Linked DNA regions of Homo sapiens. The protein of the gene in region 2 interacts with the protein of the main gene of each other region in a pairwise test. Each region holds a gene or a part of one and is shown on either strand. Other genes may lie near its edges.

Region 1 (7,035 bases), on a different chromosome or scaffold from region 2:
CAACGGCATATTAATAACTCTGAGAAGGCCTGCAGTTAAAAAAAAGAAAGTTTTTAAAGAAATGGGATCTCGCTATGTTCACCAGGCTGAACTTGAACTCCTGTGCTTAAGCAATCCTCTTGCCTTAGCTTCCCCAGTAGCTAGGACTACAGGCCCATGCCACTATGCCCAGCTAAGAAACCTACTTGTAACTTTGTTTGATTCAGTGTTTCCCAAATGTATATACCTATATCATACCTAAATCTGTTCTTAAAACAAATTCAACAGATACAATTGGAAAAATGTTTTAAAGTGCCAAATTATCTATTAATTTAATTATTTAAATAATTTAGGAACACAAATCTCTGATAAGAATTGTGATTTTCATGCCTTAAAAAAGCTGTATGAAATAAAAATATTCCTTGGCAAAAACTGCACTAGTAAAATAGTATGGCACAACTCAAAAGAGCCAATGTTGAGAAACTGAAATTAAAAATATGTTCTTTTCCTTAAGCATTTGTTTCTCATCCTCTTCCCAAACTCTTCCATTTAAAGATGAATTGGAACCTTTAAATTTTCTAGCTTTAAATTTTCTAGTTGCAACCCAAATGTTATATAAACACAATTTGGTTCCCTCCTCCCCTGGGTCAGTGAATCGCATAAGAATAAATGAACAACGAGGAAGAAATGATGTTAACAATTTTAAAGGGAGGGATCAGATGGGAGAAAAAGAAAGGGACAGAAATGTTAAACTCTAGTGTTGAAGGAAATAAAAGTACGTTTCATGCAACTATCTTTCAAAACCACCCAAAAGTAAAAGAGAGAGAATGATGCCAAAATCAACAGTTAGCCTGCAGACAGCCTAAACTTTGGGAGGCAGTATAACTTAGCAACAGCTAGATTCAACGACAGAATGAAATCAGCAAAGGCAGCAGTAATTAGTCATTTGTTCCGAAGTATTAGTTTCTAGATTATTAAGGCTCAGGTGTCTGTTGAAAATGAGTAACAGCTGTGCAGAAATTGTGTTCTACCTGCGAGGGAGAGAAGGGTAGGCTTTTGACAGGGGAACGCTTGGGAGTTGAACTGCTGACGTCAGCAAATATGAAGGAGCTACAGTCTCCAGTGGCTAAGGGGCTGGCCTGGCCCCGTTTTTTTCGAAGGATGACCAGTGGAATTGTGCTGTGCCTTGCAGGAGGTAAGACCTTGGGTGGGTCAAGTGAACTCTCACTCAACATACGTTTGTTCACCCTTGGGCTAGGTTCTCCTGCAGGTTTAGTCCCATTGCCCTCTCTTTGCTGAAGCTGTAGGGCTTTGCCTGTGTGATGTTGGCTAGGTGAAAAATCTGCTTCTTCAAAGAATTCAAAACTGCTGAGATCACACCATGATGAAGAATCCTGAAACAATGTGGGAGGCACAGAACTTTGAGATAGTGTGTGCCATCATCACCTGAAACAGCACTGAGAGAGAGATGCTCAACGCAAAGCAAACACTAGGCCCGTTGGTTTGGCTTCTTGAGCAACAGCTTCAAGATGAGCAGTTGCTCTATTATACTGCAGTAGAGCAGGGTCTAGTGGGCTGCCTCAAGGCTGGCCCTCTGATGTGCTGCAGGGACCTCCCGACACTCTACATCTGCATGCAATGGAAAGCAAAATGAAGACCTTTTCTAGATGGCATATTACGGCAATGGTCATCTCCTAACCAATGAGTGTGCAATAAATGATTTTTAATCAACTGGGAAAGGAACCAAGTGTTCGCTGAGGAGGTGCTGAATACAAATTTGTTTCACGAAAGATGATTCATCTCAGTGAAGCAATGGGACCAGTAATCAATAATCACCATTTTGTGGAAAGAGCCAGGTATGACCAAGGAGCTGATTATTACTTCAAATACACTAAAAGATTGCTTTCAGCTCTGAGTAAGCCAAATCATTAATGTGCTGTTCAAAAGCAAGACAAAATTCTAGAGAAGCACCATGAAGTAAGCAAAGAAAAAAAAAAGTTAAAAGTAACTCAAACACCATTCCGTTCCCATAATCCAAGCTCTGCTTTATAAGTCATCAATCTGACTATTTTTAAAAATATGACTTTTGAAGGAAAAGTGTGAAAATGTGAAAAAAAACTCTTCCTTCAAAAGTCCTATTTTGTAAGTATTTATAAATACTTTTGTCTCTCTCGGTAGGCTATGAAATCAGATCTTTGAAAAAACATATTCATGAAGATGAAAATCATACTTCTACCTTTACATTAATATATGCTAATAACAGCTTGGCTATAGAAAATGGCAATGATTTAAGAAATGGGTTTTCTAATTTATCTTCCAGAATCGTTAACTTCCCTTCACAATTCTACTTACAGAATCTATAAATTGGAGTGTTTCTGCAAATTCTAAGAGGTTCTTAACATTATCCAGAATGGTGCCCTGGTGGACGATCATGCACCTTGCTGGCGAGGCGCTTTCTTCAGGTAGGGAGCCAGGATCCGCTGGCAGAGATGGAGTGGAGTGGTGTTCTCCCAAACAGGAAACAGGTGCACTGTCTCCATGAGGTCTGGTGTGGTCGGCAATGGTGGTGCTGTGCCACCCGGGGTAGCTGCATGTGTGGTTCTGTGTCTAAGGAAGGGGGAAGGGTGTAGAAATAAAGAGAGGACAGAAGAAAGGGAGAAGGAACTTAGCAATGAAGTTGCACAAGGTATCAGATGCTGTTGGAGGAAAGATAAGAGTAGTTGCATCATCCCAAACTTACGCCTATGAAACAGTTGTCAAGATGTTTCCTTTTATCAATGCAAGACCCTGTTTTTAATAGTGCTAGAGGTTGTACCTATATGATTACCTTGTTATCATTTTGTAAAAATGTCAAATCATAGGTCTATATTTCGAAGTATAATTATCATATTGTCTTAAAATTCCACTTTAATATAATTTGCCAAAGGTCCATAAATGCTTGCTGTGAGTGAAGAACTGAAGAACTGTCCTATTTGCATTCTAACCACAAAAAAGCTAGAGGACTCAGGAGTTAGAGTTGCTTTGATCTACACATATTCTTGTTGCTTCTATCCCTTTCTAATGCTACAGATTGCACTGATGCAGTGAAGCACTGCCAAATCAACGTGGTTAGGAAAGCAGAAGAGCAAATTAACAGAAGTCTCCTTACAGTATGACCACACAACAGGAGAAATTGCAAAACATTAACTAAAGTTAAAAAGTGGTCGAACTAGCATGTGCACATAAACATCTTATTATTTAACAAAAAATAAATTTACCCCTAGGAATACCTACTGGGCATCACTTCTCTTTTATTGTCTTTGTTGGTTAACTATGTATGTTGCAAAGCACAAGGAGCCATCCCAGTTGGCTGCCCAGTCGCTAAAGATGTCAGAATTCAGTAATGGCCCACATAACTTTCACACATGCAAATAAAAGAGAGCAGCTAATGTTATTTATGAAGAGGTTTTATATATAACCTTTTACATGTATATACTGAACATGCATCAAATCATGTCTGAAATTATAAAATATGAAAATATAGGTTAACAAAATAATAGAAAAAAACCAAAATGGTACCATATAGATACATAGCTCTGTAGAAAATGCAGATTTTCATTCATTTTATCTTTGCTAGTCTTTAAACTGATTATAGTCCTTCTGAAGAAAAAAATTGATGATAACAATCATAAGTGGATATTGCATTTTTATTGCAATTACAAAAAGACTGCTTCCAATTTAATCAGCATATAATCTGATACCAACTACATTTTACTACAAGCAACTTCTTGTGTTGAGACATTCTGAATGGATATATGGAGCCTTGCTAAGTGTAATATTTAGAAGAGAAGAGCGCTTAGGTAAACTGAGGCAAAGCTGCTATCCCCTCATTCAAGCACATGATGACAGTCTTACTGGTAGCACCTGCTGTCCTTTTAGCTCATTCTCGGTTGACATTAGGAGCAATTCTAATTCCTTTATTCGCTTTTCCTTCTCAGGGTCTTCATCATTATAGTGTCTCTGAAATTACAAAGTAAGGGAAATAAAGACAAAGGTCTGATTGGAAGCTGCAAATACAATGGGTGTAGCCAATATGGTCATGAGGTGCCGCACAGCCCAAAGAGCCTCACTGTGACAACACCACCAACCAAATTTGGCTCCTGCAGAAATCTTTGTGAATGTTATTTCAGACTTAAGGGAGTGATGTGAAATCTCAGGCTAGAGTGGATGCTGACTGATGAGTTATTTCACCTTGCAACATCAAAGAATCAGAAAATTCCAGAGCAAACTCATTCTAGAAGACAAGATTAATAGATTGCTGGCCAAGACTCTGCTCTCCTCTCCATGTTCCCTTTCCTTTTTACTTTAGTTGCTCAGGTAAAAATATGTGTTTAGATGAAAGAAATAAGCATTTCTTAAAAGTGGTGCTTTGAACAGTGAATGATCAATGATCTTACCTGAATGGCTGCGGCAGCTGGCTGAGGGACATTGACTATATTTACATGTAACGCTACAGGGTATGGAACATGACTGGAGACCTAGATGCAAAAGACAAAACAAAGGCCACGTCATTCAGGGCTACATATGCTTCAGGGGACTTGGCTTCCTGAGGTTTCGTTCTGGGACTGAGAGAAAAAAAACACTTTACTGATAAAATACACTAAACAAATTTTTAAAACCTTTTAATGTGAAATTTAGCCAGGCCTTTAAAATGGCTAAACAGCTAAAGGAACATGGTGAAAAATCCTTGGGAGGTGTTGATGAGCACTTTAAATTTTGGGAAGTGTTCCTTAATTAGAGAAAAACACAATGAAAAAAACAATAAAAAATATATTATAAAATACATTAATGAATGTTTCAAAATTGTTTCTATGGGAAAAATTGATGGCACCAGCTGTTTGTAAATAAAAATATTTTTCTTGGAATAATTTTGAGTTTTAATAAAAAGCACAGGAATTCTTATGATAATTTATTCATCTGAGACCTTTCTGTAAAGTTTGTAGTCAAATCCATGGACAGAGAAGAATAAAAACTATTTATGAACATGTTTTGCATATAATTTGCATATGAGCTCTCTATTCTTGGGTAAGTTTTATCATTTAATATTGTTATTCTTAAGATTAAAGTTTCTCGATTTTTTTCCTCTTTCTTCTTCTTTTTCCACCTATTATGGATTATCACTTTCCCTAAATATAAATATCTAGAAATAAGGAAGGGATCACACTGATCCAACGGAGACTAAAAGGAGACATCAGAAAATGAATGTCACAAAGTTCTGCTCCTGACTCAGAGTAAGAAGGTAAACACTTACTGAGTGAATAAATTAAGACATGTCTGCCTGATCACTGCCAGAATGAAACATACCATAACCACTGAATTTCAGTGTCAAACTCTCTCCTCTTTAAACATAATACTACCTTCCCTTTTCGTTTTGGAAGAGAAAAACATTACATCTACAAATGCGACTCCATTCCCCTATTCTTCAATAGTACCTTAAGTAAATTTACATTCAAAGGTTGCCTTCAAATTAGATTTGAAGCAGCAATTTAGAATCGGACAGCTCGTTTTCTAGTCAGCACTATCTCTATGAGCTGTGTCACCCTGGGCAAAGCGCTTACCATCCTCGTTTCTGGAGACATAAACCAGGGGTAACACACCATACCTACACCCTATCTACTTCAAAGGGCATAGGTGAAGACTGGCCATGATCATGCTCAGGAAAGTTCTCTGAAAAGTATACAACTGCAAAGTATGATTATTACCTGGAGCTAAACTAACCGTCTCTCTCATTAAACTAGATTCACAGGAATGGCTTACATTTTGTGCTTCAGAAATGTGGTAATAGGAATAGTCGTTGTTAACAGTGGGCTGGCCAGTGGCAGGGAGTTGAGCTGTAGGCGGAGCCTGAGCAAAACCCATCAAATGACTGTTCTTCTGGAAGCTTGTGGCCACTGCTGGCTGGCTGGCTTTTGAAGACTCCTGCAGATAACCTTCCTGTTCGACCTTCCGACGCATTGTAGAATTCCAGTGGTTCTTGATAGCATTATCAGTTCTGCACAGAAATATATCACACAAATTTCACAAACAAAAATTTCAATTCAGATTAAAGTGAATTGACAGAAAACTGTTTCTAACAGAGACCTTTCCCTTGGGCCTATTAGTTGTTTTCTCTTTTTAATTGTTTCCTTCTTCTCCACCCTCTGAGATCAGGCTTTCTCTATTGCCTAGTTAGATTTCTCTTAGTTACACAATCTGGAATGCATGTCGTTTTCTAGAAATATCAGTATCTTTTAACCATTCCATTTCCTTGGTAAAGGAGTATTTTCAATACGATAACGCTTCATGTTTATTCTGACCGGTCGCGGTACAAGACTCCAACACAATGTAAAGTTCCAGCTGCCTTGGGGAAATTACTCCTTTGAATGTGGCACAGCAGGGCCTACACACCACGAGAGGGACATGGTGAAGTCTGGTGGATGATAAGATGCTGCTGATGAAGAATACTTCACTCTTTATCTCTCAAAGCACTAGTGAGAACTTCTGAGACCAAAAAACCTCCTACTCTTTGAAAGCCACCCCAATTGTTTTCTGAATCAGACAGAGACGAGAGTGGAAAATGGGATCCCAAAGGGAAAGATCCTAACCCCCAGTATATTTTCAAAAGGCAACGCATTTTTACTAAAGTCTTTCCATTCTCAGGAAAACAGTTTCTCAATTCAAAAAAACCGTTTAAGTCTCCCTTTTTCTATTTCAATGGGGGTGGGGGAATGTATGCTAAAGAAAGAGGAAGTTCAATAGCCCTGTTAATTTTGAGAAGAATCAGCAGTGTATCCTCTCAGGCCATATGGGAGGAAAGGCCTTTTTTTACCAACCTCTTAAAATTTCTAAGTTTATACTGAACCACAAGGGTGCAAATGCTTTGGAGCATCACTAGAGAATACTATATAAACTTTCTCCTGGATTATGAAGCTCAAGAATAAAACTATTTTTAATATTTTTGATCTACATCATTTTAATGCAAGATTTATCATTAAAAGTATTGCTTTCCAAAGGAACAAAATCTGTTATATACTACTT
Region 2 (7,650 bases):
TAGAGGATGGCAAGGAATGCCTAAAAGATGCAGTGGCTCAAAGTAGGTGGACTAACATGACTTTATATACTGCTCGACAGCCCCAAAGTCACTTGAACCACGTAAAAATAGTTGATACACGATTATTACATACACAAACACACCCCTGTATCCCTCCATCATAAAACAGCCCAAGTCAATAGGGAAGAAAATAAATGGGAACCTGCTTGTAGCTGCTAGAACAAGCATCCTTAAGAGTTTATTCAACCTCTTACAGTGGCTCTAATGGTTCTTTTCCTCTGTGAGCTAAATACAATTTTCTGGCAAGAACTCAAGATGCTCTCATTTCTACCTTACACGATAGATGGCCTTTTTCACCCCATATCAATTGCTTTTCCTGCTATGCCTGTATCTTTTTCTTTCCAATCCCAAAGCTTTTTCCTATACAGCATAAGAATCATGGAGTATCTAAAACATGGAACACAGCTTTTTCCATACTTTTACTGTCAAATATGGAAGGAGAGCCAAAAAGAGGTAATAAAAAAGGTGTGTCATTATCAGTTATAAGGGAAATATAAATTAAAACCACAACTAGATACTATATGCCCACCAGAATGGTTAAACAGAAAATACCAAGTGCCGACCAGGAAGCAGAGTAACTGGAAATCATACACTACTCAGAATGTACAGTGGAACAATCTCTGGAAAACTACTTGGCAGTCTCTGCTAAAGCTGGCTACCCTAAGTCCCAGCAACTCCATACCTTGGTAATATACCAAAAAGAAATAAAGGCATACAGCCAGCAAGACACAAAATGTGCCCTATTCATAATAACCCAAGAGTGAAAGCTACCAACGTTCATCAACAGACAAATGGGATATATTCATGCAATGGAATGTTATAAAAATAAGTCACCTCCAATTATATGCTACAATATGGAGTAATCTTGATATTGAAAGTGAGAAAGAATATATTCTATATGACTTTATTTATATAAACTTTGAACACAGGCAAAACTATCCTATGAAGTCAAAACAGTGCTATACTTGGACATCAAGAACAACTGGAAGGAGACAGAGTGGGTTTTCGGGATGTTGATAATGTTCTATTTCCTGACTGGGATGCTGGTTAGTTGAGTGTTCACTTTATGAGACTGAGCTAACACTTAAGTACACTATTCTCTGCTATACTTCAATAAAACTAAGAAGATAGGAAAGACAGGATTTAAGCTAAAGTATCATCAATCATTTCTCCAATGATTCCCTCCCACTTCTCTATAATTAATCCCTATGCATTTACTCATCTGGGTTTATCCAGTACAACAAATTCCTTTCTACATATTCCAACTGTGCTTTGTACGGCTATTTAAGAAAAGTGACTATTTTTTAAAGTTGTTATATAAGTGACAAAGAAAAACTGAAAGTTTAAACATTCTTTATACCTATGTAAATACTTTATCACAACCCCGTAGGACATTTCTGCATACAATAATTAGGATCAAAACTATGTCTATTTTAACATAATGGAATAATCACTAGAAACAAGAACACAGATGTGTATCTCAAGCTTACATTCTAATACCTTGAATATAACTACAAAATGTATTTCTGAATCAGCTTTGTTTCCTTCTGAGTTCAATAATTCAAAACATTCACAATAAAAAAATTTTTTTACGTGTAGTACAGAAAGCACAAACATACTCTGATTAACAAAGTAACAACCACATTATTCCAGTAAATTAACCCAGAGTTGTAGGAAAAAGGGTGTACTTACTGTGTAACTGGAAGAATAACCTGAAGGGTAAAATTCAGGGGCATTCACAGACAGCTTAGACATTAATACAGGAGCTACAACCACCTGGGGCTTAGCCATTGCTGACTCCGAGTTCTGCTGTGGGATTTTATCCTGTGAACTAGGTGGAGCTCTCAGGGGCCTCGTTTGCTCTGCAAAAGAAAAAAAAACGGGGCGTCAGATGCATTCTTTCCTTTGTACAGCAACTTGCTATATACTGAAAAACCATCTGAAAAGCGTCTGTTTTTAAGAGTTAAACAGGAACCATCATGAAATTTATGGTTATCGCCGGAATGTGTACAGACAGCCTACAAAAAGGAACAATAGACTTGCTGTGACTCCGTTATGGGCATACCTGCCTCTCAAATGAGTGCTTGCGAGCTTTTTTCCTCTCTGTCGTTTTAAAGGGGTCGGTGGAAAAGAGGTGGTTACTCGCTAGGGTCTCGCTTTAGAGGGCTGCTGAGGGGAGGCGATTTTTACTTCCTCCCGGGACCCCGAACTCCGAGACCGCGCACCCGGCCCCTCCCCCCAGCCAGGCGCACAAAGGATTCCAGCAGACACCTTCCAAACCCGGTTCCGGGCCCGTCCCTACCCGGTCACGCGGCCCTCTCGGGGAATGCTTTCGGGGAACCGGGGGTGGGGACCGCAGACAGCGCGTCGGGCCTCGGCACGCGTGGAGGGCCGTGGGGAAGCGTTCGCCAAGGAGGACTGGGGCCCTTAGAGCTGCTCCGTACCTGGGAGCGCCCCGGGCCGGGAAGGCCGCTGGGGGCTGGCGGGGACCTCGCACTGGGCCCCTGGCGGCGGGGTCGTCCTGGGCTGGCGCAGCGGCGGTGGCTGCAGGAAGCCCGGGGCTTTGGGTTGCGGCGGCTGGTGCCGCGCCCGCTCAGCAGGCCCCGCTCCGTTCGGGAAACCGCCGCCCTCAGGCCCGCCCCCTCCGCGGCCCAGGCCCCGGCTCCGGCCCCGACCAGCACCTGGGGCCCGATCGAAACCGTCCGACATGCTCCTCCTCCTCCGCCTCCTCCTCCAGGGGCCGCTGCCGCTGCGCTCGCGATAGGACGCGGGGGGAAGGCGCCGCGGGTCGGCTATAGCCGCCGCGCCTCACTCGGGCCTCATGGAGGAGGAGGGCGGCGGGCCCCGGCTCGGCTGCTCGGTGCTTCTGGCGGAGCGGACGGCAGCCCGAGCACCCGCCGCTCCAGAGCGCCCGCCCCGCTCGGCTACCCTCGGCTTTCCAGTTCTCCCCCAAAACCCGGCTCCCCGCCTTCGGCGCGGCAGGGGCGCAGGCGGGTCACAGCGGCCCCCTGCGGCCCGGAGGCCCGGGACGCGCCCGCGAGGATCCTCCAGTTCGCGGCTGGCCGGCCGCCGGGCCCAGCAGGCCGCCCGCCGAGTGGCGTCTTGGCCACCTGCCGGCCCGCAGCCAGGCTCGGGCAGGGGCATCTCGGTTCCGGGGCCAGGCTGGGGGGGATGAGGGATGAGGGGTGAGGGGGACGCTTACCACAGGCAGGCCCGACCTACTCGGTAGTTCTCAGGAGAGACGTGCGAGACCGACAGTTGACGCCCGGGAAATAAAAACACGGGGGGAGGGGGCGTGGACCCTGCGCCAGGGTTCGCTGGCGCACAGGTGTGTTCAATGACTCGGCTCCGGCCGAGACCCGCGGACTGCTGAGGAGTGGTCCCTGGGAGACTGTCACCTGCTCCGTTAGCATCGGGGGAAGGGAGTAGAAACGGAATCAAAATATGTGTCCCCTCTTTAATTCACCCTAGGTGTTTACCACAGTAGGTCACACCTACGTTTAACAAGCTTCGTTCTCTTCCCGTTAACCTTCCCCTCCAGAAATTTCAAGAAAATGTGCTACCTTTCAGTGTAACTCTGCCCTCTTTTTCATCTTGCATCAGTGCTGTCCAATGAAAATATAATGCGAGCCACAAATGCAAGCCACTTATGTAATTTTACATTTTGGAGAAGCCACATTAAATGAGTGAAAAGAAACAGGTGTGGCCAGGCGCAGTGGCTCACGCCTGTAATCCCAGCACTTTGGGAGGCCGAGGGGGGCGGATCACCTGAGGTCGGGAGTTCGAGACCAGCCAGACCAACATGGAGAAACCCCGTCTCTACTAAAAATACAAAGTTAGCCGGGCGTGGTGGCACATGCCTGTAATCCTAGCTATTCTGGAGGCTGAGGCAGGAGAATCGCTTGAACGCAGGAGGCAGAGGTTGCAGTGAGCCGAGATCGTACCGTTGCACTCCAGCCTGGGCAACAAGAGCCAAACTCTGTCTCAAAAAACAAAACAAAACAAAACAAAAACCAGGTGAAATTAATTTAAATTTATTTAATCCATTATGTTCAAAATGGTTTTTTAACATGCGATTTAAAATATTAAATATTTTCTCTGTTTTTTAGATACTAGTTGAAATCCAGTGTATATTTTACACTTATGGCACATCTTAGTCGGGATTGGCACATTTCAAGGGCTCAAGAGCCACATGTGGCTAGTGGCTACTGCGTTGCACAGCACAATTCTAGATTTTATTAATATGTAAATTGTTGTTTTTGTCAGGCCTGACAGTATTAATGCCAAATAAAGGATAGATGAATATAAGTAACGACAAGGAAGGAAAAATTGATTTCTTTACTGTTGGATTGATCCATCTCCATAAATTCTGATTTTAGCCTTTTGTTTTAAGCAGGGTTTCATGTTTTTCTATCTTTTCATCTTAAGAATCATTTCAATTAGGGACACAAACTCTTGTTAACCGTTTTCTCTTCTCATTAATAAAGAAAACAATGTCTTCCCCTAAACGAATGAGAAAATGGCTTCACCGAGGGCAATCATGAATAAATGGTTCATGCTATTGATGTTAGGCAAAATAATGAAGTCAGGGAAGGAAGCCAGCAGTACGTGTGGCTCTTCGGTGTACGGAAAGTTTAGGATTCAGTCTGCCAGAGCTTAGTTGGGATTCCACTCTTGACTATTGCTGTCTGTGTGATTTTGAGTAAGTAAGGGGTTTAGCTTCTCTGAGCCTCACTTTCCTCATCTGTAAAATAATAACTGTGTGGTAACACTCAGCATATATTGCAGAGACAAGATTACAATTTAAAAATTACAATTTTAATATTTTCAAATTCATTATTGTATGTGGTCACCAGTCACTTCTTGCCTGGACTTTTTTATCATACAGGAAAGACCCATAAACTATGCTAAAAAACTAACAATGAGTTATGTTCCACTGAAGTAGATGCCCCAACTCTGCCCCAAGCTTTTGTTTGCACTCACCACCTTTTCATTTCCCCTTAAAACTTTTATGATGAACAGCACCTTTTCTAACAACTGGGACTTTCCCATGTGAAGATAAGGCCATTCTGCATCCATGGTGATGTCACGACATCTTCACACCCTCTTGTTAGGAAAATTAGGTAAGATATCCTTTGCCTTCTCTGTATTTGTTACTGTATAACTTTTGCCCTATTCTTATAATGTGTGGATGGTGGACTTGGAGATAACACGAATGGATTTTGCATCATGATAATAAAAATATCTAATATTTATTATGCGTCAGTCACCTTTTAAGAGCTTTTATTTTATCATTTTATTTTATCCTCATATCCTGTGAGATAGACATTCCAATATTTTCACTTTACATAAAAGGTGCCAAGATACCGCAAGGGCTCAGATCCATCTTGGGACTGTTTTAGAGCTAACTGGCAGGTATTGCAAAATGCATAGACAGAAACACATGAACGTGTGAACACCATGTGGAACTCCCTAAAGAGAATCATCAAAGTGCTCCTCATCCACGTGTATGCCTTTTTTATTAATTTATGGTGAAAGGAGAGTAGAACTAAATTTGGACAAATTGGAAAATATGTTGTAATATGGAAAAGGACCTGCTGTGAACTATGAAAAAAATGTTTCCTTAAACTGTACTTGAAAGGCATTCTCCAGTAAGACTTCCCAAGCTGCCTAATCTTAGATTCTCTCCCTTGTGATAAGTATACCCTGGGAAAACTGTCTTGGTACTTAGCATGCCAGATTGTTATCGTTAGTATTTGGTTTATTTAAATGTCTCCTTCCCTAAACTAGCCCTCTGAAGACAGAGGATGCCTTTTAATCCTTTAGGTCCAACCCAGTACTTAGTCCATAATAAGCTTTTAACAGAAATAGGACTCACCTGCAATGGTCCTGCCTTTCCTTAGGTCACCAGTCTAGTGATGGTAAAAAAAAAAAAAAAAAAAAAAAGACTGTTTTTTTAGAACTTATTGACCTCAGGATCATCATTAGACCTTATGGGAGTAGACAGTACAGCCTTCAAGGCCAGCTAACAGGAGAAAATTTTCATAAATATGCAAGAGGAAATATTTGCAAACCACATGGTATAGTTTGTATATTTGACCCTCCAAGCCTCCTGTTGAAACTTGATCCTGAATGTTGGAGGTGGGGCCTAATGGAAGGCGTTTGGGTCATGGTGGCAGATTCCTCATGAATGGCATGGTGCCATTCTCACAGTAACGAATGAGTTATGGTTTTACTAGTTCCCAAGGAGTTTCCCCAAGAGCTGGTTGTTGAAAAGAGCCTGGCACACTCCCCCTGTCTCATGCTTCCTCTCTTGCCATGTAATCTCTGCACACTGTCTCCCCTTCACTTTCTGCCATGCATAGAAGCAGGCTGAAGCCCTCACCAGAAGCAGATGTTGGTGCCATGCTTCTAGTACAGCCTGCAGAATAGTGAGCCAAATGAAACCCTTTTCTTTATAAATTACCCAGCCTCAGCTATTCCTTTATAGCAACAAAAATGGATGAAGGCACCACATATTTGACAAAAGACTTGTATCTAGAATATATAAAGTACTCTCAGAACTCAACTGTATTGAGAGTACTATAGCCAGGTGCGATCCCAGCACTATGGGAGGCTGAGGCGGACAGATTACCTGAGGTCAGGAGTTCGAGACCAACCTGGACAACATGTGAAACCCCGTCTCTACTAAAAATACAAAAATTAGCAGGCATGGTGATGCGTGCTTGTAATCCCAGCTACTTGGGAGGCTGAGGCAGGGGAATCGCTTGAACCCGGGAGGCAGAGGTTGCAGTGAGCCGAGATTGCACCACTGCACTCCAGCCTGGGTTGAGCGTGACTCCGTCTGAAAAAAACCCAAACAAACAAAACACCTAACTCAACTGTAAAAGGACAGTTCAGTTAGAAAAGGGCCAAACATAAATGAAAGAACACTTCACTGAAGGGAATATACAGATAGCATAAGCCTATGAAAAATGTTCAACATAATTAGCCAGTAGGAAAATTTTTTTAAAACCACTGAGATTTCACTACCTACTTATTCGAATAGCTTAAATAAACAATAGTGACAATGCAAATTCAAGGATGTAGAGAAACTAGGAACTGTGTTGCTCATACATTGCTGGTGAGAATGTAAAATGCTATAGTCACTTTAGAAAACAGTTTCTTTAAAAAACTCTACATATTAAGTACTGTACTACCTAGCAATTGCACTGCTGGACATTTCTCACAGAGAATTAAGATTTATATTCACATAAAATCCTGTACCCAAATATTTAGAGTGGCATCATTAATAAGAGCCCCAAATTAGAAAGAACCCAAATATCCTTTGATGAATAGTTAAACTGTGGTACATTCATACCACAGAATGCTACTCAGCAAAAAAAAGGAACAACTGCTCATATAAGAATGTTGATGGATCTCAAGGGAATTATGCTGAACACAAAATTTCAATCTCAAGAGCAATTGTATGATTCAATTTATGACAAAATTATGAAGATGGAGAGCAGATTTGTGGTTGCCAGGGGTTAAGGAGGGAGTGGAATTTAGAGGCAAGTAGATGGGGTTATTAAAAAAGTAGGTAGCATGAGA

The links. Proteins that work in one complex are often made in the same cells at the same time.
Region 1: the proteins of PAIP1 (region 2) and MYB interact in binary tests that used the Homo sapiens proteins (3 or more experiments, as listed by UniProt).

What each region holds. Positions count from the first base shown.
Region 1 is NC_000006.12:135,191,299-135,198,333, reverse strand, and holds part of MYB (transcriptional activator Myb), read right to left. Parts: intron 6,011-7,035; coding exon 5,776-6,010; intron 4,497-5,775; coding exon 4,416-4,496; intron 3,979-4,415; coding exon 3,874-3,978; intron 3,375-3,873; exon of another isoform or gene 3,253-3,374; intron 2,587-3,252; coding exon 2,332-2,586; intron 1,609-2,331; exon of another isoform or gene 1,426-1,608; intron 1,374-1,425; coding exon 1,011-1,373; intron 1-1,010. UniProt on the Homo sapiens protein: Transcriptional activator; DNA-binding protein that specifically recognize the sequence 5'-YAAC[GT]G-3'. Plays an important role in the control of proliferation and differentiation of hematopoietic progenitor cells.
Region 2 is NC_000005.10:43,554,078-43,561,727, forward strand, and holds the start of PAIP1 (polyadenylate-binding protein-interacting protein 1), read right to left. Parts: upstream 3,001-7,650; 5' UTR 2,770-3,000; coding exon 2,505-2,769; intron 1,923-2,504; coding exon 1,753-1,922; intron 1-1,752. UniProt on the Homo sapiens protein: Acts as a coactivator in the regulation of translation initiation of poly(A)-containing mRNAs. Its stimulatory activity on translation is mediated via its action on PABPC1. Competes with PAIP2 for binding to PABPC1.